Homo sapiens: one gene and its partners. The protein of the gene in region 4 binds, or shares a complex with, the protein of the main gene of each other region. Each region holds a gene or a part of one and is shown on either strand. Other genes may lie near its edges. The genes, in order: FNIP1, LAMTOR1, LAMTOR3 and LAMTOR4.

Evidence for each region.
Region 1: LAMTOR4 (region 4) and FNIP1 share a complex: the UniProt entries of both Homo sapiens proteins name them as parts of the lysosomal folliculin complex.
Region 2: LAMTOR4 (region 4) and LAMTOR1 share a complex: the UniProt entries of both Homo sapiens proteins name them as parts of the ragulator complex.
Region 3: LAMTOR4 (region 4) and LAMTOR3 share a complex: the UniProt entries of both Homo sapiens proteins name them as parts of the ragulator complex.

The regions. Positions count from the first base shown.
Region 1 is NC_000005.10:131,668,015-131,675,039, forward strand, and holds part of FNIP1 (folliculin-interacting protein 1), read right to left. Parts: intron 4,911-7,025; coding exon 3,491-4,910; intron 2,618-3,490; coding exon 2,449-2,617; intron 1-2,448. UniProt on the Homo sapiens protein: Binding partner of the GTPase-activating protein FLCN: involved in the cellular response to amino acid availability by regulating the non-canonical mTORC1 signaling cascade controlling the MiT/TFE factors TFEB and TFE3.
Region 2 is NC_000011.10:72,100,298-72,107,391, forward strand, and holds the start of LAMTOR1 (ragulator complex protein LAMTOR1), read right to left. Parts: upstream 3,001-7,094; 5' UTR 2,928-3,000; coding exon 2,886-2,927; intron 1-2,885. Other genes in the region: LRTOMT (transmembrane O-methyltransferase), read left to right, coding at 4,667-4,715, 5,639-5,913; TOMT (transmembrane O-methyltransferase), read left to right, coding at 5,655-5,913; ANAPC15 (anaphase-promoting complex subunit 15), read right to left, coding at 7,054-7,094. UniProt on the Homo sapiens protein: Key component of the Ragulator complex, a multiprotein complex involved in amino acid sensing and activation of mTORC1, a signaling complex promoting cell growth in response to growth factors, energy levels, and amino acids.
Region 3 is NC_000004.12:99,877,825-99,884,441, forward strand, and holds the end of LAMTOR3 (ragulator complex protein LAMTOR3), read right to left. Parts: intron 6,302-6,617; coding exon 6,238-6,301; intron 4,244-6,237; coding exon 4,170-4,243; 3' UTR 512-4,169; downstream 1-511. UniProt on the Homo sapiens protein: As part of the Ragulator complex it is involved in amino acid sensing and activation of mTORC1, a signaling complex promoting cell growth in response to growth factors, energy levels, and amino acids.
Region 4 is NC_000007.14:100,143,996-100,151,917, reverse strand, and holds the start of LAMTOR4 (ragulator complex protein LAMTOR4), read right to left. Parts: upstream 3,001-7,922; 5' UTR 2,946-3,000; coding exon 2,943-2,945; coding exon of another isoform or gene 2,865-2,942; intron 2,420-2,864; coding exon 2,339-2,419; intron 1-2,338. UniProt on the Homo sapiens protein: As part of the Ragulator complex it is involved in amino acid sensing and activation of mTORC1, a signaling complex promoting cell growth in response to growth factors, energy levels, and amino acids.

The DNA of each region.
Region 1 (7,025 bases), on a different chromosome or scaffold from region 4:
TCAATACTTCATTCTCAATAATTGATGGCAGAAACAAACTGAAAATCAGCACGGACATAAAAGACTTAATTAAGACTATTATCTAAAGGTTATCTAACTTGACCTGATAGCTATAGAACATTTCAACAAAAGCAGAATATATATTCTTTTCAAGTGCCATAAAACAGTCTCAATAAATTTACAAGAGGTGAACAAAGTAGGTTCTCCAACCATAATGGAATTAAATTAGAAACCAACAGCAAAACAACTTTTGAGAATTCCATAAATATTTGTAAATTAAACAGCATACTTCTAAATAACTCATAAGTCAAAGAAATTACAAGCAAAATGTAAAAACATTTTGAAATGAATGAAACTGAAAATACAACAGATCGAAATTTGTCAGATTTGGCCAGGTGCGGTGGCTCACGCCTATAATCCCAGCACTTTGGGAGGCTGAGGTGGGTGGATCACCTGAGGTCGGAGTTCCAGACCAACCTGGCCAACATGGTGAAACCTCATCTCTACTAAAAATACAAAAATTAGGCAGGTGTGGTGGTGGGCACCTGTAATCCCAGCTACTCCAGAGGCTGAGGCAAGAGAATCACTTGAACCTGGGAGGCAGAAGTTACTGTAAGCTGAGATGGCACCACTGTACTCCAGCCTGGGTAACAGAGCTAGACTCTGTCTCAAGAAAAATGAAATAAAATAAAATAAGAACAAACAGGAAATATTTTAGGTTTGGGGGCTGAAAAGTCTCTGTCTCAATAACTCAACTCTGCTGTTAGGCATGAACATAGCCAGAAGCATATAAATGAATGACTGTGGTTGTGTTCTAATAAAACTTCATCTATAAAAAGCAGGACAATTTGGCCCACTGTCCATAGCTTGCTAATCCTTGATGTATATGGGCAAAAAATATATACAATTTAAGTGAAACCACGAATGAACTTCTCTTTGGAGAAGCCCTCACCATTTGAAAAACAAACAAACAAAAACACACATTACAAAATTCAGGAACAAAAGAGGGGACATCACTAGCAACCTTATAAAAACTAAAAGGATTGTAAGTGTATAATATAAACAACTTGATTCTAGTAAATTAGGCCACTTAAATGCAACTAATAAATTCCTAAAAGACAAAAATTACCAAAATGGACTCAGAAACAAATAGAAAATCTAAATGTATAAAAGGTGAAGAAATTAAATTAGCAATTTAAAATATTCTTATTCTTAAAAGCCTGGATGCAGATGGTTTCACTAGTGAGTTCTACCAAACGTTTAGAGAAAAAAAGTAGTACTAATCTTCTGGAAACTCTTCCAGAAAATAGAGGATGTGCCAATATTATCCTGATATCAGAGCTAGACAAAGACATCACAAGAAAACTAAAAAGCAATATTTCTCATGAATATAGACTCCAATGTCCATAATAAAATATTGGTAAATCAAATCCAGCAACACATAAAAAAAATTATATACCATGACAGAGTGGGAATTGCTTCCTAGGAATACAATGGTTGGTTTAACATCTAAAAATTAATTAATGAAATCCATGACATTAATAGTTTAAAGATGAAAAATGACACGACAATACAATCTCAATAGACATTGAGAAAAAGCATATGACAAAATCCCACACTCATTCATGATTAAGGGATGGACAAAAAAAACCAAACCGTCTCAAAACTAGGAATAAAAGAGAACTGCCTGTCTCTAAAAGAAGTATTCGGTTAAACAAAATAAAAATAAAAAGGGAACTTCTTCCATCTAATAAAGGGCATCACAAAAACCTTACAACTAACAACATACTTAATCATGAAAGATGCAATGTCTTTCCCCTAAGATCAGGAATAAGGCAACGATGTCCATGGTCACCACTTCCATGCAACATTGTATTGAAAATTCTAGCCAGTACAATGAGTCAAAAAAAAAAAAAAAAGTTGGGGGCAGCGGGGACAAAAGGCATCCAGATTGTTAAGAAAGATTTAAAACTATCTGTTCACTGATAACATGAGCCTGTGTGTAGAAAACCTTAGGGAACCTATACAGAAAAATGAATAGACTAATAAGAGTTTCAGAAAGACCAAAGGATATAAGATCAATACACAAAAGCCAACCCCACTTCTATATGTAAGCAATGAGTAATCTGAAAAGGAAATTAAGAAAATAATTCCATTCAAACTTAAGCACTTGCAAATTTTTGATACTATAAATAACCTAGTTGATGGACATCCATGAATACATAAAGTACTTTCTGTATTTCAGATATCCATGTGGATAGATTTCTGGAACTTTATTTGCTTTCACAGTGACAGATACAAAGATACGGGCACTGAATATAAAATGATGGATTCAGAGAACAATGATTGTGTTGTAAAAAGTATGACCAAAAATATAAGGCAATTTTGGGTTCTGCTGCTTAACAGAGTTTCTTCTAAATAAACTCAAAAACAGTGAAGGTCACTCACCTGCACAGCATGAGATAAATCTGACATCAGACACTGACGGAACCTCTCATCACTCCCAATTCCTTGAAGAACAAAGTCAGGCACATAAGATGAGCAGTAGCCACCCAGCAAGGACCTCCCGAAGTTGGCAATGTTGGGCTGAACAGCACTCACTTCGATTAACTTTGACCTGGAAGAAAAATGCCCCCAAAAGACATTTATTTAGTAATAAATATATTTAACCAGTAAAAAAAAAAAAAAGTGAATTCTACTTGTCCATATTTTACACTAGTCTGTATTAAAATCAAGTGTAAAATCATCCTTATATAATGGTAACAATCGTAAAAATTAAGAGTAAAATGGTAATAATAGTAAAATCAAGAGTAAAATCATCGTTATTTAAAAACTGGCTCAAGTGCTCTATCAGAAAATAAAATACTCCTTCTTATTCAGAGAAGAAGGTCTGATGAGCAACTGAGTAATGAAGTGAGGATCAATCTTTCCTAAGAGACTTTAAGAGAATTGTACCTTGTGTTTGTAGCACATTCTTAATACAATCAGATTATGAAAACAATCATCTAAAACAAAACAATTAAATGCCTCACAAGTCCAAAGCTAGGTATGTAATGTTTCTCAAGCATGAATATTCTCCTTGCATACTTGACCCAAAGTATACATTCTCTGTTTTCCTCTTAGTCTTGGCCAAATCTATTTCTAACAGCTATTCTAACATCTCAGGGATTAGTGCTCCCTAACTGCCAGGCTCAGCATATGTCCTTTGGGGGGCATAAGTCACTCCTAAATGGCTTGAAACCTTCTAAGCAGTAAGAAATCTTATACTTATCAACCAGATCCTTTAACTTTTATTTGAGGTCTTCATAAAACCTTTCCAGGGTGTTTCTGGAGCTTAGCCTTTACTCCTTCTTATGAGTTAAGAGAATATGAAAACAAGAGAGCTATCCAGAACAATGATCTCTTTTATACTAACCTTCAGAGAACAGCTAAAAAAGAGAATGGTACATATTTATATAGGGCCCATTATAGGTGAAAACTTCCTACTTACCCAGGAAAAGGTATCTCATCCTCTTCTGCCCAATCTTCTTGCTCTCCTCCATAATAACTGCTAACTTGTCTAGTCATATCATGACCTGTATCTTCACTTTCACTATCCCCAAGGGCACTGTCTGAACTTTCATTTCTTGGAATGTCCCATTCAGTTCCTACAGCAATTTTTTTATCTGAACTCTCTTTATCCCCATGGGGGACAAGAATGGAGAGTGTATCTCTTTGGTCCTGCTGAGGAAAGCAGGTTTTACATGAATCTTGGGGAACTGTTTCTATACATTTACAAAATTCATTGTTCTGCTTGTTATTTTTTGTACACAATATTTTTGAAAACTCTAACATACAGCAATGGTCTTTACTATCTGTACTTGTTTTAAATGGAACATCATCAATAGTCCTGGTTTCGATTGAATCATCATTAAAATATTCGTCGAATAAGCTCATGCTTTCTGGGTCTGAATGATTCCAACAGGGAAGTTCACAGGGCTCTTCAGAAACCATGTTCTGTGTATCAGACTCTCCAGATTGGTCCTTGGTTGTTTGTTTAGTTTCTTGATGCTGATCAATAGCCCCTCTTTCTTCCTTCAATGGTTTGGTGTGATGTCTGGTAATCTGATCCACCACTGCCTGACTTCGAAGCTCAGTATCTGAATCAGGTGACATAGAATCCCCAATCAGGAAAGTAACCTTTGTCTGGGCAGCCTCACAAGAAAATGAAGCAGGCACAATCTTATCTGGAGGTTTTTTTTCCACAACCATTCCTGTGGATCTCATTGCTTTGCCTGTGTGACTGTCTGAATCCAGCAACTTCTCACTCTGCCATGTTTCCTCTGTTGACTCTAAGCCTGACTCTGACAATGCACATTTGTCTACTGGAACAGATCCTGTGCAAACAACTGTCTCTAACTTGGCGTCAAAGCAAGTTCTTAATTTATCTCTGTACTGTTTAACATCAACAGCATTTTCTTCTTGGCAGTCAGAAGGAGAAATCATCTGGCACTCATCTGAAATTCCTAGCAGCTCCTTAGAGCTGTTTTGAATATCTTCTCTCTCTTGTTGTGAAATGTTCTCTACATTTTGCCCAAGGAGTGGATGACTGCAATATTTACAGTTACAATTGGGAGTTCTAATTTCTTCTGACTCTTTAAAGAGCAAACTGCTTTTGTTTCTATGCATTGTGACAAGGACATACTCTGATTCTTCTATTTCACCTTTCTCTAAAGTGGTAGTAATTACTGTGCCTGGCATAACGATGGCTTCATCTTCTCCATTTTCTAAAAGATGCGTTTCTTGAAGTTCAGAGCATCTTATAAAATAAGTAAGAAAATAAAGTAGCCTCTGGACCATGTCTTGTCGTTTGCCAACTACCACAGTCCTTGCTAACCGTACGGGAGAGCCAATAGCGCCATACAAGTCTCCTGTAATGGAAAAAATCAGTTATTGGACATGTCCTTTACTGACACAGCTAAGTAAGCTATTTTTAATGATCAGAAACCTACTTCTTTTACTGTATGAGTAATAGTTTAGGTTTTACTCGTTTTTTTGTTTTTTTTTTTTTTGAGACAGGGTCTCACACTGTAATCCTGGCTGGAGTGCAGTGGTACAATCATGGTTCACTGCAGCCTCAGCCTCCTAGGCTCAGGTGATCCTGCTACCTCAGCCTCCTGAGTAGCTGGGACTATAAGCGCGTGCCACCATGCCTGGCTAATTTTTTGTATTTTTTTTTTTTTGTAGAGACAGAGTTTTGCCATGTTTCCTAGGGTGGTCTTGAGCTCCTGGGCTCAAGCAATCCACTGGCCCTGGCCTCCCAAAGTGCTGGGATTACAGGCGTGAGCCACCATGCCTGGCCTCACTCTTAGTTCTTTAACAGATGAGTGACTATTCAAGGGAGGAAGATGAGATGAATAATCTTAACCAGAGAGAAAGGTGAATTTAAGGGTTTTCTGGTTTCCTCTTTAAACAAATGCTATGGTTCAGAAACCTCAAGCAAAGAGTCAGTTCTGAAACTCACATATCCCAAGAATATTCTCTAACCCAGGCTCCATGCAGAGCATTTTTACCTTGTTAGAGAAGTACTGCCTGAAGTACTATGTACACAAGGATTCTGTAGCTGTGTCCAATCAAGAAAAGACAAAGCACAATATCCACTGGCTTGCAAGGAGAGGAAAGGAGTAGTGGTAAAATGGAGCAAAGCTATAGTCGTCACACCACACACTTAACCATTCCTGATTTAAATCATATCTCTGGGGCCGGGCACAGTGGCTCACGCTTGTAATTCCAGCACTCTGAGAGGCCGAGATGGGTGGATCACTTGAGACCAGGAGTTCAAGACCAGCCTGGCCAAGATGGTAAAACCCTGTACCTACTAAAAATACAAAAACTAGCCAGGTGGTGTCGTGGGCACCTGTAGTCCCAGCTACTTGGGAGGCTGAGGCTGGAGAATTACTTGAACCCAGGAGGCAGAGGGTGCACTGAGCCGAGATGACACCACTGCACTCCAGCCTGGGCAACAAGAGCAAGACTCCGTCTCAAAAAAATAAAAATAATAAAAAATAAAAAGAAATAAAATAAAAAAGTAAGTCATATCTCTGAACTTTAACTGTTGTTCCTCTAGCCAGCACCCCACCCCACCAGCTCCCATGTTTGTAAAAGCCTATTTTCCCCTTCCATTCCCTAGAGGGTTGGGTACTCAGGATAGGCCAGAAAGGGCAGGAAGAGAGAGACTCATCCTTACTAAAAGGAAAAGAAAGGGCAACAAGTTCAGCCATGCAGTTCATTTTCACTTTTGAATCCATTCTAAACATGACTAGCCATTATGTTAAAAGCAGGGGAGGTGAGGGGGGCAGGACTAGAAATTAGCATTTCTATATTTATGCTATACTTCAAATTAAACCAGTAATTTCAGTGCCAAAACTATGGAGAATAGGGCTGGGCATGGTGGCTTACACATGTAATCCCAGCATTTGGGGAGGTGGAAGCAGGCTGATCACTTGAGCCCAGGAGTTCAAGACCAGCCTGGGCAACATGGCGAAACCCTTGTCTCTACAAAAAAATACAGAAAATTAGCTGGGCATGGTGGCGCGCACCTGTAATCCCAGCTACCTGAGAGGCTGAGGCGGAAGAATCACCTGAGCCCAGGAAGTTGAGGCTGCAGTGAGCTGTGATCGCACCACCACACTCCAGCCTGTGCAATAGCGTGAGACCCTGTCTCAAGAAAGAAAGAAAAAAAAAGGAGAATACAAAGCCATTAATTTCAACTTAATTCAATTTTTGAAGTTGTCAGTATACACATTTAAAATCCTCTATTTTTACTTTACAAAGCCCTCACACTTTTTAAAGGAACAAATATAAATAGGTCTCAAATAAATATAAGCTATAGATACTATTATGATAAATTTTCTCTTCTGGCTAACACACTGGCTCAAATATCACCATGCCACTGTTCTAAACTACTCCCATAATTCCCACAAATTACCAAGTAAGTTGAAATTGCTTTGGCATGGCAAGTGAGTCTTTCATGATTCCCACTTTAC
Region 2 (7,094 bases), on a different chromosome or scaffold from region 4:
AACCACCTGAGTAGCCCATGTAAATTTTCAGCAGCCCTGTTCCTGCTGGCCTGTGCTGATAATCACAACCCCTGAACTAATGTAAGACCAAACCAAGCTTCCTCATTGGTTTGGTCTTCCTCCTTGTCCTCTTTCAGTCCCCTGTTCTATCTACTGTAATATTTCTGGATTTGACCCTGCCTTGAGACCATCAGCTGCAAATCCTTGCTTGCTGTATCAGCAGTAAATGAGAAAAACAGACCTGCTGGGTATCTATCCAACCCATAAAGAGCAAGAGTGCCCTGAACAAAGCCAAGGATGGGCCCAGGGGGACATCCTGGCTAATGCTGACTCACCAACCTTCAGTGCCAGACTCCTCAATGCTCCCCTCCAGGCCTATCTCAGTTCCTCAGTCTTTCCTGCTGCAGGCCGCAGCTCCCCTGCCCACAACTCCACAACTCTCCTTGTAGAGGGCTACTTCCTCCTGCCCTGCTTAGGGAGGCCCAGCCTTTTCACCTTACTCTTCTTTCTCAAGGCTAGGTTGCCCAAGTGTCCTCAGGCAATTTGATCCAGTTCCCAACAGCAAGAGACAGAAGCTGTGGGCTTTGCCCCATCACCTCTATAAACTCCCAGACACCCTTCCTCCCTAAATACATAGGCTCAGTATTAAAGAGCTAAAAAGACAAAATGTTTGCCAAAGATAAAACTATGTATTTCTAAGGAAAGCTGGCTCCATAATGAGGCCCAAGTTAGCTTCCTATGTGTCTGTCCTCCCAGCTCCACTTCAGACAGATCTTCCTGCAGGACAGGGTAGTCTCTTCCCTATCAGGGGTTCTTCAAGAAGAAGGTTGGCTGATCACTTCTCAGCCTTCAGCTAAGATCAAGTGAACAACAAGGTTATTTTCTTGAAACCCAGACTTAAAGAAGAGGCCATGCTACCTACTTCAGAGCAGACAAACATCACCCCACTCCCAAAGTGCGAGTGGAGCATGGGTTAGGTTTGTCACATCAAGGTTTGTCTCTGCATTAGTGTAACCCAAGAGGCAGGGTTTCACTGTCTACCTTAGCACAGACATAGCAGCCTGCCCGTGACTGGCCACCTGGTCTAGGGGCATGGCTGAGACAGCTTGGCCCCATGGATAAAGTACATGGCCTAGCGTCAGAACACCTGGGCACTAGCACTTCTCAGCTTGGCCAAATCACTTAGCTTCTCTGAACTTCTTCCTCACCTTTCAATAGACATAACCCACACTAATATGACGGATGTCTGGCAAGAGTCAAATTAGATAACTGTGAAGGCCCTTTGTAAACTGTAACGTGTTGTATATTTTTTATTATGATAAAGAGACAGAGATGAGAGTCGGAGAGGGGCCTGCCCAAGAACTCAAAGAGGGACTGTGGGATGGTGGATGGTTATGGCCCTTGCTACATGAGGCCTCAAATCACCCAGCAGTGATTAAGCACCTTCTCTGGGTGTTAGGAACAGAAATGAGAGCCCCCCAAGGAGAAGGTAGAGATTCAGGAGAGCAGCAGGCCCAGCTCTCCCTTCCAAGTAGAAGCTTGTATCCTTTCTCATACGGCATTAATCCTTCTTGACTCATTCCCTGCAAGAGTCCATATTATGCTTTAAGGGACAATTTCCCACTAGGCTACAGCTCTCCCAGTAGGCAGGGTTATTGTTGTCTCTTTCTCAAAAAGGTGGAAGTGAAGTGAGAGGTATTAGGCACAACACATGCCTAACACAGGGCAAAGGAAATATGTGTTCATTGGGTGTATGGAGAATTGAGAACCAGAAGCCACCCTTGCTTCCCATACAAACGACATTTTCCTAGGCTTAAGCCCTTAATCCAAAATACGTTCACTGAAGAACGAACTACTTCCCAAGTACCAGTGATATAATCTATTTTTGTGACCATCTTCCCCATTAGACCGTGAGCTACCTGAAACCTTTCTACTCTCTCAGGTCTACTATATGTTCAAATGTAGAATCCGGGCTTAGAGACGATCAAAAAAGGAGAGTAGACAGCAACTTGAGACTTCATCCTTGAATGTCAGGCCAGGCAGGGCAGGGATTAGAGTGTGGGGAGAAGTGAGAATGCACTAAGAGGAAGAGGGAGAATTTAAAACTGTACAGGTCTCCCCAGCCTAACCCTTTCTCCAAAGGTATCAGATCTACAGCCAAATTCTCAGAATAGGCATGTCTCCAGCTAAAGGAACCCTCAGGCCCCAGGCAGACTGCACTGAGGCAAGCCAAACTCAGAACCAAATGAACTTCCCGCTCCATTTCTCTTTTCCCACAATCTAGCCAAAGCTAAATCCTCTTTGTTGCTTCCCAGACAATTTCCCACATGTCCCGATGTCCTCACTGTATCGATTAAATCCTTCATTGGCCAATTCAAAGGCCACCAACTTCCAGAGTCGTCCCCTGGCCCTAGACTAGCAGCGACCTTCCTTCTGCAACCCCAGGGACTAAGACGATACACGAATTCCTGATTCATCTCAGGACAGACTAACTCAGGGCCTCAGCTTACCCACCCCTAAAATGGATTCGCAAAGCCCACTAATACACAGAAGACACAGGAAGCTGGGGAAGGGAGTGTTTCCCGGGGACCTAGACTGAGGATCCTTGAATCTGAAAAGTTTTGAAGGTAGGAGCAAACGGAAGTGGTGGGAGCGAGCCGGACAGGCGGCTGCCTGCACACCCCGAGGCGGGGACTGTGTAGAAATCTGGGGCTTTAACAGGGGTAGGAGCCCGGCTTGGCGTCTCCTCTGTAATCTGTCCCCTCCAGGCCTCCGTATTCAGTGAGCCCTGCAGTCCGGCTGCCCGTCCTCCGCAGGTTTCTTTCTGGGCCCCATGCCCCAGTGTCTTAGCCCTCATTCCCGAGCCCCGCCTGCCGCGGCCGCACCTGGTCCGAGTCCTCGTTCTCGCTGCTGTAGCAGCACCCCATGGCCGGGGTCGGGCCGGGCGCTCAGGCCGCGCCGAGGAGGGACGGCGTCCGTGAGGAGCCCTTCCGGTCACATGACCCGCGGCGGCCTCCCGCAGGCAACCACCCGCCCCCACCCCCCGTACCCCCTGTCCCGGAGCCGCTTGGCCGCCTCAGTCAATACCCCGGCTTCCGGTCCCGCCCGCTAGCGCGTGATCGTTGTCAACCAATGGGAAGGCGTAACCGTACACGCAAGCACGTGATGCGGGGAAAGGGCGGGGCGGATCACATGACTTCATCTTTCCAGTCTCTAAACTGGCAGTAGTGGCCATCGTGAATTGTGTTATGCGTTCTCGTGGCCACTAGGCCACTTTTCTGGGCCATTGAGCGAACTCGTACCAAATGCCCTCGTATGCCCTTGTGATATACTCTTCTAAATGCCATGCGAGGGGCGACTGGGATCCAGGCCTGATGCTCCAGATCGTACGGTCTGGGTGCACACACACAGATGATCCAGATGACCAGTACCTAGTCGGGGAACACAGAGGGTGTATCGCCCAGCTGGGCTGGGGGTGAATACACAGAGGGTGTATTCTCCACCTGGGCTGGGGATCTGCGACTTACAGGAAGAAGGGACCTTATACTACCTTCACATGCTGACGCGCAGCGGAGATAAATCCTGGTAGAGGAGATAGAAGCCACCTCACTGACCTCTCTGCTTTCAGGCTTTTATCTTTAATTCTGCCTTTTTTAACAGCACCCATTGTAATCGAACGCACAAAGCTGACCATCAGTTCTCTTTTCCTAACCCCCGCTCCATGTCTTCCCTTGGGCCCTGAACACAGGTCCAAGTCCGTCCAAGATTGTATAGTGATCCATTTGTTGTTCATGAGCGTGTGATTGGGTGTTCACCAGCATGTATCAAATGTGCCACCCTCAAATCTTGTTTTGGCACATTACCCGTCTGACATAACAAGAGCCTGACACCTCTCCCACTGCATGTTCTGGGGTGAGGGGTGGAGGGGTCAGCAATGTGTTTCACTGGACATAGAGAAATAATGTAGTTTCCTGATTGATCTACTGGACTTTGTACATGCAGCCTGGTCTGCCTACTGTCTTTACTGTCTTCGAGACTCAGTACAATGTCCTCCTGATTACCTTCTCTGACTCCATTCTCTGGACATGCCCAGCTCCCTATGCTTAATCCTCATCCAGTGTTAATTCATGCATTTATTGAATCAACAAATATTTGCTGAGCGTCTACTATGTGCCACACATTGTTATATCTGGATATGCAGCAGTTCACAAAACAGCCAAAGTCCCTGTAGTCATGGAACATCCAATAGTGATCACACTATATTGTATTCTCTGTTCCTGGGTCAGTCTCACCTACCAAACTTGGGAGTTCCTGGAGCACAGTGACAGGTTCTGACTCTTCCCTGTAGCCCAAGGCATGGCCTTGCTTACAGAAAACTTGCATATCAATGAGCATGTTACAGTCACCCCATCACCTTGGCTCACCCCATGCCCCATCTTCTGATCCAAAGTATTGGAGAAGTCACCAGATCTCATACCTCTTATAACCCCTCAAATCAAGACCCTGAGGTTCTGTAAATCTTTTGAGGTTCCTGAAGGGTAGGAGGCAGCTCAAGCTCGTCCCTGGGGCTGGTAACTTGAACTGCAGGTCTCAGGTGACAGCAGCAGCCTCAGCATGAATAATTGAAAGCCATTCCAGCCTCCTACCTCAGGGTTATCCCCCGCAGCAGGCCCTGGACTCCCCGACCTGTCCTGTGCTCTGGTCCTCCAGCCCAGGTAAGCAGGGCCCTGGATTGTGGGTTCCCAAGCTCACCAGTTCAAGCCCACCGCATCACTCACCTATTCACACCCATCCATACACTCTTTCATTTTTACTCCCCGCCATCACCAGGGGCCTTGCAAGAAGGCCGGCAAGGAGGTCAGATCTGGATGAGGAGGAGAATGGTCCAGGACATGGGAGGAGAGGCCCATTCCCCATAGGTCCCTGGAGAGAAGAGCTGAGTAGAGGGAAAATGTGTGCTGTGTGTTATGTGTATGTACACATTTGTGAAGGGAATTCTGAGACAGCACAGGAGAAGAGGGGAATACAGCGGAGAGGAGATGGGGCTGGAGAATTATTAAAGAATCAAAGACTCCTCCCATCCTCAGGGAAGAGCAGGCAGAGGGAGAGTCCTGGGGTGGGAAAGAGGACATCTCACTCTAACACCCTATGGGGTATTTTGATTGCATTTTACTGAGGCAGGGCACAGTGATAGTGAAGGTGTTTTTGACTGCAAATCTATGCTCTTTTGCTACACAGCAGTGGTCAGAGGAGACCAGGCAGGCAGAGGGTAGGGGTGGGGGAAGATATCCCAGAGGTGAATTAGTGAAAGGGGTCCTGAAGAAGGGGTGACTTCAAGGATAAAGAGAAACAAGTCAGGGGAACAATGTGAAGATGGGACCAGGGGTTGGGACCGGGAAGAGGTGGTTTGGGGCTGGGTGCTGAAAGTAGACAGTATAGAGTCCTTGAAAGTACACAGGCTTGGAATCACACTAACCTGGATTCAAATCCCAGTTCTGCTCTGTGACTCTGGACAAAAGACTTAGCCTTTCTGAGCCGTGGTTTGTGAAATATAAGGATAATAATTGCTACTGGCAAAAGCTACACAAATAGGCAAATTGTGGGTATGGGATTCCCTCCCTACCTCCCTCCACCCCAGGGCCCAGGTAGGGACCATGTCCCCTGCCATTGCATTGGCCTTCCTGCCACTGGTGGTAACATTGCTGGTGCGGTACCGGCACTACTTCCGATTGCTGGTGCGCACGGTCTTGCTGCGAAGCCTCCGAGACTGCCTGTCAGGGCTGCGGATCGAGGAGCGGGCCTTCAGCTACGTGCTCACCCATGCCCTGCCCGGTGACCCTGGTCACATCCTCACCACCCTGGACCACTGGAGCAGCCGCTGCGAGTACTTGAGCCACATGGGGCCTGTCAAAGGTCAGTGTTCCCTAGCCTTCTGCTCCAAGAAGTACCCCCAAGACAGTGAAGGAATATTTGGGATCTGTTGCTGCTTAACTGGATGAATTGGGCAGGTTCTTGATCCTCTTTTAGGGCCTCTTTTTTTTCTCATCTGGAAATGAGGAGCTTGGACTAAGTCATTTATTCAGCAAACATTTATTGCCACCTCTTTTGTATTAGGAATGTGCTAGGTGCCAGGGAGAGGGGTAGAGGCCACAGAGATGAATGAGCCACAAATGCTGGCCTCAAAGGAACCATAATACACAGTGGAATAACCATCTCAGCAGATAACCCATAGCTTTGTAATTATCTGTCTCCACATCTTTCCTCTCCACCATGGAGGCTTCCACATACCATTTAGGGTAGCTGTCTGCCTGGATTTATCTCAATCCCAGCATAAGTGCTTTTAGGGTCTTATTTAAGAAATTCGGCTGTGTGGTGGCTGGTGCCTGTAATCCCAGCACTTTGAGAGGCCGAGGTGGGCAGATTGCTTGAGCTCAGGAGTTTGAGACCGGCTTGGGCAACATGGCAAAAACCCATCTCTACAAAAAATACAAAAATTACCCAGGCATGGTGGCACATGCCTGTGGTCCCAGCTACTTGGGAGGCTGAGGTGGGAGGATTGCTTGAGCCCAGGAGGCTGAGGCTGCAGTGAGCTGTGATTGTGCCACTGCACTCCAGCATGGGTGACAGAGCAAGAACCTGTCTCAAAAAAAAAAAAAAAAAGAAAAAGAAAAGAAAAGAAATTCACTGGCTGGGCATGGTGGCTCATGCCTGTAATCCCAGCACTTTGGGAGGCCAAAGCAGGAGGATCACTTGAGCCCAGGAGTTCGAGACTAGCCTGGGTAACAAAGCAAGACCCCCGTTTCTACAAAAAATTTAAAAATTAGCCGGGTGTGGTGGTGAGTAACTGTGGTTCCAGCTACTGGAAATGCTGAGGTGGGAGGATTGCCTGAGCCTGGGTGGTCAAGGCTGCAGTGAGCCGTGATCATGCTACTGCACTCCAGCCTGGGCAACACAGCAAGACTTGGTCTCAAAAATAAATAAATAAAAGTTCATCCAATTCCAAGATCAGAAATACATTTGATGAGCAATAAAAGGGGAATGAAACTACAAATTCTAACAGAGACCTTTCATAAATCTGAAAGATAGGGTGGTTG
Region 3 (6,617 bases), on a different chromosome or scaffold from region 4:
AGGCAGGAGACTCGCTTTAACCCAGGAGGCAGAGGTTGCAGTGAGCTGAGATCAGGCCACAGCACTCAAGCCTAAGTGACAGAGTGAGACTCTGTCTCACAAAACAAAAAACAACAAAAAAGATGCATACAGGTGCCAAGCTGACTAGGAATGGACTGTGAACGTTAGTTTTATGCATCAACTTGGCTAGGACACATTGCCTAGTTATTAAAACATGAATCCAGGTACTGCTGTGGATGTATTCTGGAGATGTACTTAACATTTATAATCCCTTAAATTTAAGTAAAAGAGATAATCCTCCATAATGTGGGTGAGACTCATCCAATCAACTGAAAGGCTTTAAGAGCAAAACTGAAGTTTCCAAGAGGACGAACTTCTGCTCTGAAACTGCAGCCTCAGCTCCTACCTGAGACTTTTCAGTCTTCTGGCCCGTCCAACAGATGTTAGACTTGCCAGTCCCCGCAATAGTATAAGCCATTTCCTTGAAATAAATACACATATGTCCAACCGGTTCTGCTTCTTTGGAGAGCCCTGAGACAACTTTCTTCCCCAAATATCCCATTTTATTGTTTGTTGAAATATTTTATTTCTAATTTTATTATTTTTGAACAGTTAAAAACTCAAAGTACAATGAAGTTTACAATGAAAAGGCTCACTCCTGGGATCCTTATCCCCCAGGTATCTAGTTCTGCTCCTTGGAGACTACCAATGTGATCAGGTTCTTCCATATATGTCTTCAGAGACAGTCTACCATATACAAACAAATAGGAATACATACACATTTTTTCTTCTTATACATCAATTGTAGCATGCCATACAGTTTGACACCATGCTTTTCTCAATAAACATTATTATGCCTTAGAGATCTTTTCATCTCAGTACCTAAAGCACTTCTTCATTCCTTTTTCCATTGGGCAAATTAGTTTCACCAATCCTCTGTAATTTATTATCTAAAGTGAGACATTGAGAATGAAAGCACTATTAATAATTATCCAAGAACAGCAGGTATAAACTGGTAGTGTTCAAAAAGCCAAAGCATATGGTTATCCTACCTATGGCAGATATTTAGGTTGCTTCCAATTCTTTGACATTACCAAGTTGCAAAGAATATACTTGTAAATACATACTTTTGCACATCTATGTGCTTTGTTTGGTAGGATAAATTTCTAGAAGTGGAATTGCAGGGCAAAAGGTTATGTATATGAATTTAAAAGTTTCACAGACTGCCAATTGCTGTACATAAAGAGTATAACAAGTCACACTTCCCTAGCAGGCATAGAGAATGCCTGCCCTACTTATTGAATAATCCTTTTCCCATTGTGATCCCGTCTTTATAACAATGTTTTAAGCCCTCACATGTATGTACTGAAGTCTTTTTTCTGGGTGAGTACATACCATTGATATCTAGTTGTGCATTCAGTTCTGTACTACCTTTCAAAAACAGTTAATCTAGGTTTACATTACCCTTTCAAAAATTTCTTAGCAATTTTCACCACCTTATTTTTCCAGATGAACTATGGGATAGTTTATCTATTATACCCCCTCAGAAATTTTAACAGTGGCAGCATTCAACATGTAAAGGTTAAGTAGCTCCATTTGTTATCATTTCTTTTTCTAGGATTTTTAGATATACAATTATTATCTGCAAATAGAAATCTGGCCACCTCATTTCTAAAAGACATTGTTTCATGCACCATTGCACTGGCAAAAATTTCCTGAACGATATTAAATAATCCAGATAATGGGAATTCTGGATTTCAATGAGTACATCTAGTATTTCAATTGTAACAATTAACTACAGTCATGTGTTACGTAACAATGTGGATACATTTCGAGACATGCTTTGTTAGGTGATTTCATCATTATGTGAACATCATACTGTACTGACAGGAACCCCAGATGGTATAGCCTACTACTACACACCTAGGCTATATGGTATAGCCTACTACTACATACCTAGGCTATATGGTATAGCCTACTACACACCTAGGCTATATGGTATAGCCTACTACTATACACCTAGGCTATATGGTATAGCCTACTACTACACACCTAGGCTATATGGTATCGCCTACTACTACACACCTAGGCTATATGGTATAGCCTACTACTACACACCTAGGCTATATGGTATAGCCTACTACACACCTAGGCTATATGGTATAGCCTGCTGTTCTGACCACCCTCGTATGTGGTCCTTCACTAACTGAAACATCATTATATGGTACATGGCTGTATTTATAGCTCTTTGCAGGTAAAGCATTATATCTCTTGCCTCTATTTTATTTACAAAGGCTATTTTCTTGCCCATTTTAAGTGCCCCTAGTCTGTGGTTCTATACCATCCTATGTATAGCTTTATCATAGCACTTTCTATACCTGCTTCCTTTACTGAACTCTAAGTTCTTTAAAGTAAGGTATCACAAATTAATCTCATATTTACACTGAAGAAGGGAGGAAGGATGGAAGGAAGAAAAAGTAGCACATGGCCCGGTGCAGTGGCTCACACCTATAATCCTAGCATTTTGGGAGGCCAAAGCAGGTGGATCACTTTAAGTCAGGAGTTCAAGACCAGCCTGGCCAACATGGTGAATTCCTGTCTCTACTAAAAATACACAAATTTGCCAAGTGCGATGGTGTAAGCCTGTAATCCCAGCTACAAGGGAGAATGGGGCATGAGAACAGCTTGAACCCAGGAGGCAGAGGTTACAGTGAGGCAAGATCATGCCACCACTGCACTCCAGACTGGGCAACACAGCAAGACTCTGTCTCTTAAAAAAAAAAAGAAAGAAAGAAAAAGCAGCACAGCACCTAGCCAATTGCCTCACTGCACAATTCTAGGGATAACAATCACACATATTCTATGTGAAAGGCAACTCCCAGAGCATAGAAATATGATGAGACATGAATGGTGCTTCTTAGAATTGTGCAATGTGATAGCTCGGCTGACTGGCACACAGGTGCTCAATGCATATGTACTGAACTGATCCAGGGAAAAACTGATTGTCAAAGAGCCTAGAAAGAAATTAACTCTGAATGATAGACTGCATTCCTGAACATAAAGGGTATATTCTAGAACTGTAGTACCTCTTTCATGGAGATTAAATTAGGTTCATGCCTGAGGTTTCTTGGTTTCTTTTCTTTTTTGTTTTTGAGACGGAGTCTCTGTTGCCCAGGCTGGGGTGCAGTGGCACAATCTTGGCTGACTGCAATCTCAGGTTTCTTTTCCAGTTAACAGTTCATACTACCGTAAAACAATCTCCAAACCAATACCTACAAGAAACACTCATTATTTATTCATGTGGCTGAAAGAGTATATTAATTATGTTTAGATTTTTGGAAAAAGTCTGAACAAAAAAAGGACCTATACAGTGCTCAAACTATATTTTTAAAAATACTATTTTATTTTTACTCACATATGAAAAAAATGGCTGTACTATCATGTTTACATACATACTAACATTGGAAACAGAATAACGAATTGTATTTAAATTTTATGAAGAACACACAAACATTAAAACACTGATTGGTTACAGAAAGCAGAGTTTGAGGAAAAAACATTAGCTATAATTTTCATTTTCATTAAAGAGCAGCACCCTCTGAGAATAATCAAACTGATTAGTAATATTCATCTATACTGCAAAATAATATGTACAAAGGAAAGTTAGTGATTGTACTGATTTTATTACTTTTACCAAGCCATTTTATGTTCCTCACTCAATGCAAAGAAATAAAACATAATCTGAAGAAAAATATGTCCTTATTATTATTCACAATAAAAAGTTGGCTTTATTCTGCAAGCCTGGGCATATTGTACAATTGGCAGCACTTAACGGCTCAAGTGGATCAATGTACCAGTTTGATTCTGATCCACTGAATAGAATCTCTCATCCATATCTGGTGACCAGACTAACTCCATGGGAGCTGTGATAGACTGAACCATTTCTGTGGTATCCCTAGATCTCACTAAATAAGAAAGACCCTACACCAGAAAATATAGCAACTGATCTATCTATAAATTACATCTATATGCTAGCTCTTTAGTATAAGTTGGAAAAAGGGGCCCTTTCTTGAGCACATGGATAAAAGTATTATTGTAGTCTAAAGATTGCTGGATTGATATTGTGTTGTTATAATGAAGATAAGGTACACACTGAAACCACTGTCAGATTAAGAAACTTCCACAACTTGTCTCAGTTCTTCAAACAATGGAGCAAGTTCCTTTTCTAGGCTGACAATTAGTCCTAAAATAAAGAGATTAAGAAAATTACATGTTAGAAAAATGTTCCTCAAAGCCTGAAACTCAGATTTCCTTATGTCCAAAATACATAGTTACCAAAAGTAAATCAGAACATAGTTTATTTCCCATGACTGAAACAAAATACAGGTTGAATATCCCTTATCCAAAATGCTGGGTATCAGAAGTGTTTTGAATTCTGGAATATTTGTACAATACTTACTATTTGAGCATCCCTAACCCAAAAATCTCAAATATGAAATGCTCCAGTGAGCATTTTCTTTGAATGCCATATTAGTGCTCAGAAAGTTTCAGACTTTAGAATGTTTTGGATTTCAAATTTTTGGATTAGGGATGTTCAACCTGTACTATAACCCTAAATAAAGCAACCAAAAACTTTGTAGTCATTAATAAGTTTATTTTCAGCATCTATTACTAAAGTGAATGAGTGAAAAATACTTATATATTAGGAAATACAGAATAAATTATATGCACTATAATTTGTTAAGAGTTTTGAAAGGAAAATCTTAATTTATACCTTACTGCTTCAAAATTTGCCTTGACTCAGAAATAATACATATGATTTTTACTAAATAAAGCATACTTTTGTCTCTAAGCAAATTTTAACAGATTATATCAAAAGATAGGTGCTTCTATATTGAACAAAGAAAATCAGAAATTTATTTTTATAAATTTGACAAAGCTAAGACATAAATAAATATTTCAAATGAAAAAATATTTTAAAAATAAATGGTAGAGTACAAAACACACTGGAGTTCAATGATGAACCTGGGAGATAAACATCTAGAAATAAGCATATCTTGCTTCTCCTTAGTTTACTAGAGTGAAAGGCTATCTGCCTCAAACAGAGCCTGTTTTATGTTCAAACAAATAAAGATCTTTCTCTGTCTTATAGAATATAAAAAGCATCTGAACTCTCAAGGAAAGGGTCCAAGTACTAAAATATTGTTCTGTACATTATCATAGTATATAACAACTGGTGACTTAGTATGTGATGATAGGTGATTTATCAAAACTCAGATTTAGTATATTTCCTAAATATACTTAAAATCTTAACACCATTACTATCCTATATAATTCAGAAAGTGTTTTTACATACAGTATTTTACAGATTCCTAAAATGTTTTGAAATGGAAGAGATCTAATAGATCATCAAATCTAAACCTCTCATTCTAAAGATGAGGTATCTAAGAACAGGCTTCAGTGACATAGCTAGAAGAACTTGCTCAGTTTGGAAGAAAAAACAAATAGAAAAAAATATATTACAATTCTCAACAGCAATCAAATCTAAAGGAGACAGACCTTTTAATAAAAATCCTACTTTATATAAAATGAAGTAAAAAAATTACAACCAAGTGAATAGTCATTATTTTACACATAAATATCCAGTGAAGGTATTGGATACAATGGAATTTTACTATTCTCTATAAAGGGTACAGCTTCCTAGCATTTGTTCTCAAATTCTTCAGTTCTCAAGAAGAGTGAGACTATGTTCATCCTATTCATGCTCTTTAAATTCTCAATCACATTCATTTTCCCCATTAGGTAAAATTTAAAAAATTCTAATTTAATAGATTGGTCTGTAACTCATCGATCATTTTAATGCGTTTTGTTGGGTTATCTTCACCTTGTTTTCTTAAACTGCTGTAATGGGAGCAAGATGTAGCACTCAGATAACATTTAATTTTCCTGTCTCCAAAAAAAAAAAAAAAAAATCACTTACCCATACACTGTCTCATTTGAACTAGAAAATAACATTGTAAGATGGAGAAAGCATATATTATCTCCATTATACAGATATGGAAACCAGGATTCAGAGAAATCACTTTTCCCAAGACATGGAAAAAAGACAGTGAAACTGGGCCACAAGTTCAAGATTTTTGGCTCTAAATCTACTATTCCTCTTAAATTAAGGTATGGTAATTAAATTAATTTTTTAAAATTAAGGATTAAAGTGATATTTAAGGTCATTAAACACACCTGTATTGGCACTGCTGCTGGCTATGAAACTCACCACCAAAGGTAAACGATTAAATTGAACCACCTAAAAAGAAAATAAGAGCCAAATAATATGTTGCATTATGAAAAGGTAGTATAACTAAACTGAAATGTCTTAATCTTTCAAAAACTTTAAAATCATCAATGTTTTAGCCCAACATTATGGTATTATATTATGAAACAGAAAGGAACTTTATATTTCAGTGAATATTTCCATAAAACAGAATTAGTGATGATCTCTTAGAGACATTAATACCATTTGGCCTGGAAAGTTTTTAAGGTGAAACCATATCTTCATCTTTTTATCTCTAAAGCCCAACAGAATATCAATTACATTGTAAGGACTTAATAAATAGTTGATA
Region 4 (7,922 bases):
AGCCTGGGCAACATAGCAAGGCCCCTGTCTCCACACATTTTTTTTTTTTTTTTAATGGCTGGGCGTGGTGGTGCTTGCCTGTAGTTCTAGTTACTTGGGATGCTGAGGCGGGAGGATTGCTTGGGCCCAGGAGTTCAAGGCTACAATGAGATGTGATCGTTACCACTGCACTCCAGCCTGAGTGACGGCGAGACTCTATCTTAAAAAAAAACAAACAAACAAAAAAACAGGACGGGGTGCTGTGGCTCACACCTGTAATCCCAGCACTTTGGGAGGCCGAGGTAGGCGGATCACGAGGTCAGGAGATCCAGACCATCCTGGCTAACATGGTGAAACCCCATCTCTACTAAAAATACAAAAAAGTAGCCGGGCATGGTGGCGGGCGCCTGTAGTCCCAGCTACTAGGGAGGCTGAGGCAGGAGAATGGCGTGAACCCGGGAGGCGGAGCTTGCAGTGAGGGGAGACTGCACCACTGCACTCCAGCCTGGGTGACAGAGTGAGACTCCGTCTCAAAAAAAACAAAAACAAAAACAAAAAAACAGGCCGGGTGCAGTGGCTTATGCCTGTAATCCCAGCACTTTGGGTGGGAGGCTGAGGCGGGCAAATCATGAGGTCAGGAGTTCGAGACCAGCCCGGCCAACATGGTGAAACCCTCTCTCTACTAAAAATACAAAAATTAGCTGGGCATGGTGGTGCACACCTGTAATCCTAGCTAATCAGGAGGCTGAGGCAGGAAAATCACTTGAACCCGGAAGACGGAGGTTGCAGTGAGCTGAGATCATGCCACTGCACTCCAGCCTGGGCCACAGAGCGAGACTCTGTCTCAAAAAACAAAAACAAAAAAAAACAAAAACAAAACTCTTCTCTCCTTGCTCCTCCTTCTTACCACCACTTGCCCAGTCTCATCTCTTTTTTTTTTTGTTTTTTTTGAGACGGAGTCTTGCTCTGTCGCCCAGGCTGGAGTACAGTGGTGTGATCTCGGCTAACTGCAACCTCCACCTTCCAGGTTCACGCCATTCTACTGCCTCAGCTTCCCGAGTAGCTGGGACTACAAGTGCCCGCCACCAGGCCTGGCTAATTTTGTTTTTGTATTTTTAGTACAGACGGGGTTTCACCGTGTTGGCCAGGATGGTCTCGATCTCCTGACCTCGTGATCCGCCCGCCTTGGCCTCCCAAAGTGCTAGAATTACAGGCATGAACCACCACGCCCAGCCCAGTCTCATCTCTTAATGACGCCTCCTTCTGCCCATCTTCACATCACTAACAACAATATTGCTCAACCACCTCACTGGGTCTTGTTTCTGTTTTAAAAAACCTTTCAAACTGTATTACCTTCAAGAATAAGTTCAAGTGTGTTAACCTGGCCTTGAAGATCCTTCACAATTACATCCTCCCTGACCATATCCTCCTCTCTTCCCTCAAACCTTCCCAAATCTTTTCAGCATAAACTTACCATCAGTTCAGATAGGTTAGTGCCACACACCTGCAAATAAGTCCTCCCCCACTGTAAATACTCTCCTTTAAGGTGGGCTGAATTCCTACCTCCCGGAAAGTTAGTTACCTTGTCATAACATGTTGAATTTTTAATATCCTGGATTCCCTCAATAGTCTTTACCACCTGTATTGTTTTCAACCCTTAACCTTAAGCTTTGTCTCTACCTAAGTCAAAAACATCTGGAGACTTAACACTATACAGTACTATGGAACAAAATACAAATGCCTCTTTAAGAAATACCAAATAAAGGCCAGACGTGGTGGCTCACGCCTGTAATCTAGAGACCTAACACCATACAGTACTATGGAACAAAATACAAATGCCTTTTTAAGAAATACCAAATAAAGGCCAGGCATGTTGGCTCACGCCTGTAATCCCAGCACTTTGGGAGGCTGAGGCAGGTGGATCACCTGAGGTCAGGAGTTTGAGACCAGCCTGGCTAACACGGTGAAACCCCGTTTCTACTAAAAATACAAAAAATTAGCAGAGCATGGTGGCACGTGCCTATAATCCCAGCTACTCGGGAGGCTGAGGCAGGAGAATCGCTTGAACCCCGGAGGCGGAGGTTGCAGTGAGCCGAGGTCGCACCACTGCACTCCAGCTTGGGCAACAAGAACGAAACTCAGTCTCAAAAACTATAAATAAATAAATCGCAGCCGTTAGGAGACTAAGATTCCACAGACTGATTACTGAAAGTAATTGCAAAAACTGCAAATACTTTTGTACCAACCTAATAGATGCCAGGCAGGAAACCAGATAAAAGCCGAGAAAAGAAGGGCCAATATTAGAAGGGGTTACCGGGCTGTGTGCACTAAGGGACCCCCTCCCTTTCCCAGAACGCACCGCCAGCACTGCACCTTCACTCAGTACCAGGTAGCCGAGCTGGTCTGGGATTCGCTCCAGCCCCTGGGTCAGCGCAGAAGTCTAGTGGGTAAAGATGCAAGTCGTGAGAAGCATGCTAGAGGGATGGACGGCCCGATACCCTTCACCTGCAAACCCAAGTCTCTGGGTTGACGATGGCCCCAGGTTTTCTCATTCCCCAGCCAGGTCCCTTCCCGGCCCCCTCCCCCCTACATGGTCCTCAATACTGATCTTCCCGAGCCTCCATCTGCCCCCACTCTCGCCCCCGGGCTCCCCTGGCCTTCCACATCCCACCTTTGCTACCCCAAGGGGCCTTTGCTGCCCCACTGGCCCCTGCCCCCAGACCCTCTCTTCACCTCCCTTCGTCTCCGCCCGACCTGCAGACTACCCGCAGCCCCAGAACACCCTCCCACAGACCCCTCCCCAGCATTCTCGTCGCCATCCCTCCCATTTCCATCCCCTCTTCCTCCCCGAGCGGATAGGAGGTGAGGGTGGAGCGCAGGCCCACCAGGGGGAAACCACACAGACTGGGGAGCAGAGACGCTGAACCCCCGGCGGGTCCTCTCGCGCATGCGTCCTCACTCACCATCGCAGTCTTCGGTGCTGGGGGAGCTCCCTACCAGATAGGTAGCTTCCGGCTTCAGGCCCCGGTCACGTGCTTGCAGCCGCTGCGCTCCTCCTTCTGCTTGCGCCACTGGCCTTTAGCCCCGCCTCTAGCATGAGGATTGGACAGTGGCCACGTCGTCAGACCCAACCAGCCAGTGCGAAGCGCTGTTTCCCGGAGGCGCACGTTGATTGGTGATATCCCCTCTTTAACACCCATCTCCCCGCCCCTCAGTGCCTGAGCGAGAGGAAGACGCGGGAGCGTCCGAGGAGGGGAGGATCTGGGAGGGGCGGGAGTAGGCCGGGGTTGACCGTTTGGTCCTGGGCGCACTGTCTGGAGCCAGAGTTCCGCCTGAGCCAGGATGCCCGCTGGTGTGACCCCCCCAAATGAATCCCTTCCCAGGTTTAAGACTGGACCCAAAAACTAGAGAATAAAAGGAAATAACGTGCAATGCATGTGAAAAACTATTCAAGGCTGGGCGCCGTGGCTCACGCCTGTAATCTCAGCGCTTTGCGAGGCCGAGGACGGATCATTTCAGGGCAAGAGTTCGAGACGAGCCTGAGCAACATAGCGAGACCCTCCCCAGTCCCCCCGCTCCAACCACCTCTACAAAAAAATAAGAAAATAAGCCGGGCATGGTGCCTCACGCCAGTAATTCCAGCTACTAGGGAGGCTGATGGAGGAGAATCTCTTGAGCTCAGCAGTTGCAGAGTGCAGTGAGCTATTATGGTGCCACTGCACTCCAGCCTGGGTGCCCTTCCTCTAAAAAAAAAAGAAAAGAAAAGGAAAAAAAAGGTACTCAAATGCTACTTTTTTTTTTTTTTGAGTCGGAGTCTCACTCGGTCGCCCAGGTTGCAGTGCAATGGCGCGATCTCTGGCTCAATACAACTTCCGCCTCCCGTGTTCAAGCAATTCTCCTGCCTCAGCCTCGCGAGTAGCTGGGATTACAGGCGCCCACCACCACGCCCGGCTATTTTTGTGTTTTTAGTAGAGATAGGGTTTCACCATATTGGCCAGGCTGGTCTCAAACTCCTGACCTCGTGATCCGCCCGCCTCGGCCTCCCAAAGTGCTGGGATTACAGGCTTGAGCCACCGCGTCCGGCCCTCAAATGCTACTTTTGTGCCTACTCAAGACAGCTCTTTGTTGAAGACAAGAATTTGTTCCCGAAGTGGTTTTTTTGTCCCCAGATTCAGTCCGGGACAATGTGGTGGTAAATAGAATCCCCAGCTAGCCAATGCAGCTGCAATACTGAATATTCATTCCCTACAGGAAAAAATTAGAAACAGTACCTTGGAATGATACACACACACACACACACACACACACACACACACATCACACAATATATGTAAACATTAGAAATTTTTGTTTTAAATAATTTCTAAACCTGTTGCCATATTAATGTGGTGGAGGCTGTGTTAGTGAAATAATATGAAGAATGATTCTAGAAGCCTGGGCAACATAGCAAGACCCCATCTCTAAAAATTTAAAAATTAACCAGGCATGATACTGCACATGTAGTCCCAGCTACCCGGGAGGCTGAGGTGGGAGAATCGCTTGAGCCCAGGAGGTTGAGGCTGCAGTGAGCCATGATCATGCTACTGCACTCAAGACTGGGTAAAAGAGCAAGATTGTCTCAAAAAGCAACAAAAAAATCTGAATATAATAACAATTGTTAAAGTCTGGGTGTCTTTTAAGACTTGTTAGAAACAGCAATTTCAAGGCTGGGCGTGGTAGCTCACACCTGTAATCCCAGCACTTTGGGAGACCAAGGCGGGTGGATCACCTGAAGTCAGGAGTTCGAGACCTGCCTGGCCAACATGGTGAAACCTCATCACTACTAAAAATACAAAACAAACAAACAAAAAAAAAAAAAACTAGGTGGGTGTGGTGGTGCATGCCTGTAATCCCAGCTACTGGGGAGGCTGAGGCAGGAGAATCCTTGAATCCAGGAGGCGAAGGTTGCAATGAGCTGAGATTGTGCCATTGCACTCCAACCTGGGCAACAAGAATGAAACTCCGTCTCAAAAGAAAAAAAAAAGATTTTGATGTAATAAATTATGGTGGCAGTATTCTTGATATTTAACCATCTTTGTGTTTCTGGAATAAAATCTGCTGGAACAAATTATACTACCCATTTGTTTTACTGCTTTATTTAGAATTTTTAAAATCTATTATGATAAATGAGATTGGGCTGTAGTTTCTTTTTGGTATATTCTTTATCTGCTTTTGGTAGAAAGAGCAGGTTGCCAGATAAAATGAATCAGAGAGTTTCCTATCTTTTTTATCTATGGTCTGCAAATCAAACTGGTTGGACCAACTCACACTCCTCTAGCAATGTGTCAGAGTTCCCAGTTATCTCCAGCTCCATTAACACATGGTATTGCCACACTTTTTGTTTTTTGTTTTTTTTTTGAGACAGTCTTGTTCTGTTGCCCAGGCTGGAGTGCAGTGGCGCAATCTCAGCTCACTGCAACCTCCACCTCCTGGTTCCCGGGTTCAAGCAATTCTTCTGCCTCAGCCTCCCGAGTAGCTGGGACTACAGGAGCGCACCACCACACCCAGCTAATTTTTGTATTTTTAGTAGAGATGGGTTTCACCATGTTGGCCAGGATAGTCTTGATCTCTTGACCTCGTGATCTGCCTGCATCAGCCTCCCAAAGTGTTGGGATTACAGGCCTGAGCCACCATGCCCAGCCAGTATTGCCACACTTTTAGGGTAAAGTTTTTGGATATGCGATGGCTTCTCATTGTAGTTTTTATTTGCATTTACCTAAATATTAATGAGGTTGATCACATTTTCAGACAGGTTTGGCTTTTGGGATATCATCTTTTGTGAAGTATCAGTTCAACTTTTTTTTTTTTTTGAGACAGAGTCTTGCTATGTTGCCCAGGCTGGAGTGCAATGGTGCGCTCTTGGCTCACTGCAACCTCCGCCTCCTGGATTCAAGCAATTCCCTTGCCTCAGCCTCCCAAGTAGCTGGGACTACAGGGGCACGTTGCCATCCCGGCTTTTTTTTTTGTATTTTTAGTAGAGACGGGGTTTCACCGTGTTGCCCAGGCTGGTCTTGAACTCCTGAGCTCAGAGCAATCCACCTGCCTCGGCCTCCCAAAGTGCTACGATTACAGGCATGAGCCACTGCAACTGGCTTATTTATTTATTTTTTTTTTGAGATAGTCTTCCTCTGTTGCCCAGGCTAGAGAGCGGTGGTGCGATCTCGGCCCACTGCAACCTCCACCTCCCAGGTTCAAGCAATCCTCCTGCCTCAGCCTCCCGAGTAGCTGGGATTACAGGCACGCACCACCAGGCACGACTAATTTTTTTGGGTTTTTAGTAGAAAGGGGGTTTCACCATGTTGACCATGTTGGCCAGGCTGGTCTCAAACTCCTGACCTTAAGTGATCTACCCACCTCGGCCTCCCAAAGTGCTGGGATTACAGGCATGAGCCACCATGCCGGCCCAGTTCAACTCTTTTCTCATTTTTCTATTGAGTTTGTCTCTCTCTTTTTTTTTTTTTTTTTTTCCCGCCCAGGCTGGCTAGAGTGCAGTGGCGTGATCTCAGCTCACTGCAAACTCCTCCTCCCGGGTTCACATCATTCTCCTGCCTCAGCCTCCCGAGTAGTTGGGACTACAGGCGTCTGCCACCACGCCCGGCTAATTTTTTAGCTCAGGAGTTTGAGACCAGCCTGGCCAACGTGGCCTGTTGTGGGAAGTCAGGGACCCCAAACGGAGGGATTGGCTGAAGCCATGGCAGAAGAACGTGGATTGTGAAGATTTCATGGACATTTATTAGTTCCCCAAATTAATACTTTTATAATTTCTTACGCCTGTCTTTACTGCAATCTCTGAATGTAAATTGTGAAGATTTCATGGACGCTTATCACTTCCCCAATCAATACCCTTGTGATTTCCTATGCCTGTCTTTAATCTCTTAATCCCGTCATTTTGGTAAGCTGAGGAGGATGTATGTCACCTCAGGACCCTGTGATGATTGTGTTAACACAAATTGTTTGTAGAGGATGTGTGTTTGAACAATATGAAATCTGGGCACCTTGAAAAAAGAACAGGATAACAGCAATGTTCAGGGAACAAGAGAGATAACCTTAAACTCTGACTGCCGGTGAGCCGGGTGGAACAGTGCCATATTTCTCTTCTTTCAAAAGCAAATGGGAGAAATATTGCTGAATTCTTTTTCTCAGCAAGGAGCATCCCTGAGAAAGAGAGTGTGTCCCTGAGGGTAGGCCTCTGAAATGGCCGCTTTGTGGGGCGGCCGTCTTTCATGGTCGAAGCTGTAGGGATGAAATAAGCCCCAGTCTCCCGTAGCGCTCCCAGGCTTATTAGGACGAAGAAATTCCCGCCTAATAAATTTTGGTCAGACCAGTTGTCTGCTCAAACCTGTCTCCTGATAAGATGTTATCAATGACAATGCGTGCCCGAAACTTCATTAGCAATTTTAATTTGTCCCGTCTTGTGGTCCTGTGATCTCGCCCTGCCTCCATTTACCTTGTGATATCTTATTACCTTGTGAAGCATGTGATCTCTGTGACCCACACCCTATTCGTACACTCCCTCCCCTTTTGAAAAAATCACTAATAAAAACTTGCTGGTTTTTATTAGTCATCACGGAACCTGCCGACATGTGATGTCTTCCCTGGACACCCAGCTTTAAAATTTCTCTTTTTTGTACTCTGTCCCTTTATTTCTCAGACCGGCCGACTCTTAGGGAATATAGAAAAGAAGCTATGTGAAATATTGGGGGTGAATTTCCCCCGATAGCGGCCAAATCCTGTCTCTACTAAAAATTCAAAAATTGGCTGCACATATTGGCAGGCACCTGTAATCCCAGCTACTCGGGAGGCTCAGGCCTTGAACCTGGGAGACAGAGGTTGCAGTGAGCCAAGATCGCACTACTGCACTCCAGCCCGGATGATAGAGCGAGACTCAGTCTCAAAAAAAAAAA